2 linked regions of the Homo sapiens genome follow. The protein of the gene in region 1 interacts with the protein of each later gene in a pairwise test. Each region holds a gene or a part of one and is shown on either strand. Other genes may lie near its edges.

What was found. Proteins that work in one complex are often made in the same cells at the same time.
Region 2: the proteins of DNAAF6 (region 1) and YAF2 interact in binary tests that used the Homo sapiens proteins (3 or more experiments, as listed by UniProt).

The regions. Positions count from the first base shown.
Region 1 is NC_000023.11:107,213,111-107,216,610, reverse strand, and holds part of DNAAF6 (dynein axonemal assembly factor 6), read right to left. Parts: intron 1-3,500. UniProt on the Homo sapiens protein: Plays a role in cytoplasmic pre-assembly of axonemal dynein.
Region 2 is NC_000012.12:42,228,249-42,231,748, forward strand, and holds part of YAF2 (YY1-associated factor 2), read right to left. Parts: exon of another isoform or gene 2,974-3,500; intron 1-2,973. UniProt on the Homo sapiens protein: Binds to MYC and inhibits MYC-mediated transactivation. Also binds to MYCN and enhances MYCN-dependent transcriptional activation. Increases calpain 2-mediated proteolysis of YY1 in vitro.

The DNA.
Region 1 (3,500 bases):
GTGATACTTTAAATTTGATAGGATTTCCATAAAAAAACTCATGGAGCTTTCCACTTTAATTACCCATCATTGTTATAAAACAGAAAGACAGATGTCAAGTACTATTTCGAATATGCTTTCCTTGTTCTTTCAAAAAGTGTTTGGTTTAATAGACTCAAGAGCAGAATTGATCTTTAGTCAGGCTAAAACCCTAGTTCCAGCTCAGTGAATCATGTATCCCTGGGGATAGAGGAACGAGCCACATTCATCTCTATGAAGGTTAGAACCAAGTATTAGTATAAAGGCATTGACACTTTTGGGGTTTAGCAGTGTCTGGTTGTAGTCAGATGGAGGACAGAGTATGTGAAAGTTTTATAGAAATAAAAACTAACACTAAGCAGAAGCTAAGTATTCAGACTTCAGATTAATCATTCAAAAGCCCTGATAACTGCTTTTACTTTTTTCCACTATAGGTATGAAACACTTCCCTGTCCCACCGCCTCATGACACTGAACTAGTGGATTTAAACAGCAACCACAAATTAATAGTCTCTAATACATGCTGATGTACTTCAGTCTTCATAACTTCATAAGTTTATTTTTCCATCTTCTGCACAAGCATACACATCCCCAAAGGACTTGCCCTGACTCACCAATACAAGCAATCTTCATTTTTTTCAACTAAGTATAACACATAGCGACACCACCTCATTGGCCCGTCTCAGGGATTCTTTGATATTTCAAGAAAATCCCAATTTCTTACCAATTGTTTTTTGCTGATGACAGACCCTGCAGCTCCAACTCACTCCACTGCTGGCAGTCAAAAAATTCTTATCTCCTTGCCTACTGGCCAACTAGCACCTCTATCTCTCTTTTCTCAGGCCCCTGTCCTCATCTCCTAAGACTTTAGACATGTACAAAAGTTAGAATGTCTTGTTTGGGCAAGGAGAGTAGTGTCTGTTCTTGAAAGCTGATGGAACAGCTCACGTGGGTCTTTATTATGTGAAACTATTCCAAGAGTTATAAATCAGAAATTAATCTATAATCTCTCAACAGTGTCTGAGACAGTAACTATTCCTTTCCAAAAGGTGTTTCAAAAGTGCTATGTCTGCGGTTAAGGCATTACAGGCATTTTTATGTGAAAATCCCAAGATAATATTTGGGACATTTTTTTCCCTCTTTTTTAATCACTAATGTCATGTAAATGTGTAGTACTTTTCTTAAATTATTAATCATCAGAACACTAATAGTCAGAGTAAAGCATTTCTCAGAACATGAGGGCCTCTTGTTTAGTTGAGTGCTGCCTTCCACAGAAAATTAAAAGCAGTAGAAGTAAAACCTTGGACATTCTTGACAAAAATTGGTATACTTTCCATGGACAGTGATTGGCTCAGAACACATGGGAGTTTCAATTTATTAATTTAATGAAAATAAATGATTAAAAATAAAATTTTCAAGTTAAAAGATGGAATGGGATCATAAAAACATTAAAAACCATCTGGCAATTGTTTTCTATTAGAACATCATTTGAGCCTTTACCATGAATCTACAGCCAATTATCTGAGCAATTTATCACTGCAATTCATGCCACTTTGTAATATGTAAGACAGAACATCCTCGTTATAATGTCTGTGAAGAGCAGTGAACCTTATTTCCCACAGGCCTTAAGATCCCCTCATGGCTTTGAAAAATGACAGACACACTCTCTCCTCAATCTCCCAGATTCTTAACAAGTCATATAGAAAAGGGATAGTGTAAATGAAGCAATGTGTATGCAACTGTTCTCTTGCTGTTTTCAGAGAGCATATTTTCAAAAACACATCACTCTTGTAATCATCCCACAGTTCCCAAGATTAATACATGTTAAAAAATGAAAAGCAGTTTCTCTCCTGGAAAATGTAATAGTTCATTAGAAACATTAATTATTCTCCCACTGTTCTGATACTGTATGTCCTCTAATGATATCTGTACTGTGGTGTCTGAATGACCAATTATCTCAAAATTGTTTATAACCCAGATATACAGAATCATACATTATTATAGTAATTTTCCTTTATAAACTGTACAACTCAGTAATATTATGTTAGTCTATTCTCATAAGCACTCATCTTTTCTCCTAGAAACACCTCTAGATGCAAATAAACACCTCCAGCCATAAACACCAAATGGAATAGGCTCTGTAACCAGGGTAAATCCTTATATTTGAATCTGTCCCAGTTACAAGTTCCACTTCACTATATTCAAGGTCACTGTTTCTCAAATACTTGATATACTTTTTCTATATGGCATAACCTTACCTTTCCTAGGATGTAGGCTCCAGAAAATTATTATTCTGCTACTCAACTAAGGTAGCAAAAATGAGCTTGCCTTCCCAACTTCATTGATACATTGTTCCTAACTTTTTCTCCTGTATCCTGTTTGTTGTGTATAGCTAATGCTGTCATTAACATCCTGATGTTTCTTTGTTTAGCCTCTACTAAGACTTTTCCCTGACTAAAACTTCCTGGTTCCTGATCCTGGCTCCAAGCTGACTCAGTTCTTCTACAAATGTTATTCCCATTTCACATCTTATTTATTCTGCCCTATTCCACCTAAGCTCTTCCTTAGGGTGGTAGCTCAGTTCAGTGTCAATCTGAGCCACTGAATTTGCTGCCTGTTCATAGCTTGCTTTTTTCTCCACATTGTGGCAAAAATAAATTTTGGGAGGAGTAAATTGATATGTACGTTTGTGAAAGATGATTTATTCATGATAAATTGGTCATATAACAAAACACTTCATTAAAATAATTTTATGCAAATTGACAGATTCTGTTATGATATGGGATTTTTTGCCCCAAATTTTGTTTGCCCTATCATAGGCAGTCTGATAGCCAAGGCTCACCGATAGTTAAGAAATAGGAGAATGGAGAGCAGGGAGTTATATAAAAGTGTTTTAATTGTTCTGGGAATACTGGCAGTAACCTTGGAGTGGTCAAAGGTCAGTTCAATGAACTCTTCTACCCAAAATGAAGCCCATCTTGCTACTGCAAGCCTTGCTGGCATTACCTATCTTGACCCCAAATGCTACTCAACTAATTAGACTCCACAACTTTATTTGTGCATTACTGGGAAGCCAATTTTGGTAGGCTGAAACTAGTTTGCCCTATTATTTGGCTCAAAAACTTTCTGTTCTGCGTTAATGTGTAGACAAATTAAAAAATTAAGGGACTGGTACTTGGTGGTCCAATTAATACTGTATAACTGAAAATATTTGTTTTATAGAAATATTGCCTAGGCTTAAACAATCCTAGCTACCACTCTGCAATGGTTGTCAAGCATTCTTTGGCTATAAATATAAATGACAACATTTTGAGATGTGGCTATTGCTACCACAGTTACAGAACTATTTTCCTATTCAGTGTTCAGGTGGTTTAGAAAAATATAATTATCTTTGCTAGAAATGTACTACAGGTTACATTGTCATGCATAATCAGCCTTGTAGCTTCCTGTGAATGTATCAAATGACACAGCTCTGTTCCCACA
Region 2 (3,500 bases), on another chromosome or scaffold:
GGTGTCGGCCCCCCGCCCGCGCCAGCCGCCCCGTCCGGGAGGGAGGTGGGGGGGGGTCAGCCCCCCTGCCCGGCCAGCCACCCCATCCGGGAGGTGAGGGGCGCCTCTGCCCGGCCGCCCCTACTGGGAAGTGAGGAGCCTCTCTGCCCGGCCAGCCGCCCCGTCCGGGAGGGAGGTGGGGGGGTCAGCCCCCCGCCTGGCCAGCCGCCCCGTCCGGGAGGGAGGTGGGGGGGGGGGGTCAGCCCCCCCGCCTGGCCAGCCGCCCCGTCCGGGAGGTGAGGGGTGCCTCTGCCCGGCCGCCCCTACTGGGAAGTGAGGAGCCCCTCTGCCCGGCCAGCCGCCCCGTCAGGGAGGGAGGTGGGGGTGTCAGCCCCCCGCCCGGCCAGCCGCCCCGTCCGGGAGGGAGGTGGGGGGGGGGTCAGCCCCCCTGCCCGGCCAGCCGCCCCGTCCGGGAGGTGAGGGGCGCCTCTGCCCGGCCGCCCCTACTGGGAAGTGAGGAGCCCCTCTGCCCGGCCAGCCGCCCCGTCCGGGAGGGAGGTTGGGGGGTCAGCCCCCCGCCCGGCCAGCCGCCCCGTCCGGGAGGTGAGGGGCGCCTCTGCCCGGCCACCCCTACTGGGAAGTGAGGAGCCCCTCTGCCCGGCCACCACCCCGTCTGGGAGGTGTGCCCAACAGCTCATTGAGAACGGGCCATGATGACAATGGCGGCTTTGTGGAATAGAAAGGCGGGAAAGGTGGGGAAAAGATTGAGAAATCGGATGGTTGCCGTGTCTGTGTAGAAAGAAGTAGACATGGGAGACTTTTCATTTTGTTCTGCACTAAGAAAAATTCCTCTGCCTTGGGATCCTGTTGATCTGTGACCTTACCCCCAACCCTGTGCTCTCTGAAACATGTGCTGTGTCCACTCAGGGTTAAATGGATTAAGGGCGGTGCAAGATGTGCTTTGTTAAACAGATGCTTGAAGGCAGCATGCTCGTTAAGAGTCATCACCAATCCCTAATCTCAAGTAATCAGGGACACAAACACTGCGGAAGGCCGCAGGGTCCTCTGCCTAGGAAAACCAGAGACCTTTGTTCACTTGTTTATCTGCTGACCTTCCCTCCACTATTGTCCCATGACCCTGCCAAATCCCCCTCTGTGAGAAACACCCAAGAATTATCAATAAAAAAATAAATTAAAAAAAAAAAAAAACATTTAAATATCTACAATACTTCAGGTATTTTATTAGCTTCTGGGAATACCAAAGTGAATAAGACGGTCTCTGCCCTGTAGGGCAGATAAGTGTCTAGACAATTATACTACAATATATTTATTCTCCAGGAATAATTACATATACATACAGCCATGCATCATTTAATGACGGATATGTTCTGAAAAATGCATCGTTAGGTGATTTCATTGTCAGAACATCATAGAATGTATTTATACAAACCTAGATGGTACAGCCTACTACATACCTAGGCTATATGGTAGAGCCTATTGCTCTGAAGCTACAGGTGTACAGGATGTTACTATACTGAATGTTGCAGGTAATTGTAACACCATGGTAAGTATTTGTATCTAAACATAGAAAAAGTAGAGTAAAAATATAGTATCATTTTATGGGACTGTATATGTGGTCCCCCACTCACCAAAAATGTCATTATGGAGTGCATGACTGACTCTACATACATAGAATCAATATGATACCAAGGGGTGGAGGGATGGTAATCCTAGAGGGCTTCTTTGAAAAGTACCATATGGTGGCTTACGCCTGCAATCACAGCATTTTGGGAGGCTGAGGCAGGCGGATCACGAGGTCAGGAGATGGAGACCATCCTGGCCAACATGGTGAAACCCTGTCTCTACTAAAAATAAAAAAATTAGCTAGGTATGGTGGCACACGTCTGTAATCCCAGCTACTCAGGAGGCTGAGGCAGGAGAATCGCTCAAATCTGGGAGGCGGAGATTGCAGTGAGCCAAGATCGCGCTACTGCACTCCAGCCTGGCGACAGAGCAAGACTCCTTCAAGAAAGAAAAGAAAGAGAAGAAAGAGAAGAAAGAGAAGAAAGAAAGAAAGAGAAAGAAAAAGTACCATATGATAAAAATAATTCAGTGCTGACACAGCACAGGATTGGGATAAGCAGCAGGAAATGAAGCTAGGAAGGTAGTTTAGGGATAGATTATTATTATGGCCTTGAACACTATCCTAAGGATCTCAGCCTTTATTCAGCAGCCACTAATAGGACTCAATTTTTTTTTTAAATATACAGGGACCAACATAATCACATAGGTTTCAAAAAAGATAATGAAGATCATGTTAGTAGCATTCCAAAGGAGAGACCAATTTGTCCAATAGTTCATGACAGAAGTGATATGGGCTTCTGAACTGTAACTACATAAAAGGAAAAAGGATAGATTTAAGAGACAATCCAGAGAAAGGACATGAAGGAGGACTACAAATTAGAATCAAAGCTGAGACAATGACAGTTTCTAGCTGAGGTTCCAGAAAGGAGTTTATGCCACATACAAAGTAAAGAATATACAGATGCCAAGTTTGGGGAGGCAGAAATGGGTTTCAGAGATATACACAGAAATCTATGAAAAAGGAGTCTTAGAGACATGAAGGAAGTAGAGTTTCAATTTAAAAAGGGCCAAGAACATCAAATACTTTGGAGGCGACATCAACAGATGAGTGAGATTGGGCCACTGAGTTAAACAACTAGGATATTAGTTATCAGGCCTCACACTATAAAGGAAATAAAAAGAATACCTGCTGAAGTAAAGCCATTGCATGTAGAAACCCAAGCCAATAAACTCTAGACCAGCAGTTCACAAACTTTTTGGTCTTAGGATCATTTACACTCTTAAAATTTAAGAGTTTTTGTTTTTTGTTTTTCTTAATGTGGGTCATCTATCAATGTTTACTATATTAGAAATAAAAACTGATAAAAATCTAAATATATTAGTTCATTTAAAAAATAAATACATCACATATTAAATGACATATTTTTATTTTAAAAACTTATTATTTTCCAAAACAAAGATATTTTGTATGAAGAGTGGCATCGTATATTTTTGCAAACCTCTAACATCTGGTTAGTAGAAGACACCTGGATTGTCACATCTATCTCAGCATTCAATTTGTTGCAATATGTTGTTTTGGTCCAAAAATATTAAGAAAATCTGGACTCTCACAGATATACAGTTGAAAAGAGGTAAGTAGTTGAATAGCATTTTCAGATAACTATAGGTGTTATTCTTTGATACTACATAAAAACACAGTTGTTTCTCAAAGGTTAGTTGCAATATGAAATCTGAAACCACATCAATGAAGTTTTCAGTGTTCCCTTAAAATCTGTTGGTATTTTGTACTTTGATGGATTACCCATTACAGTTTTGTAAAATCATACATCGGTAACTAGGAACCATTTGTTTGCTGAGTTATGCGTAGCTTCCAAATGCTGACACATTTCATGGTGAAATATCAGAAATTATATTCATTGATACCACCACTAATCTTC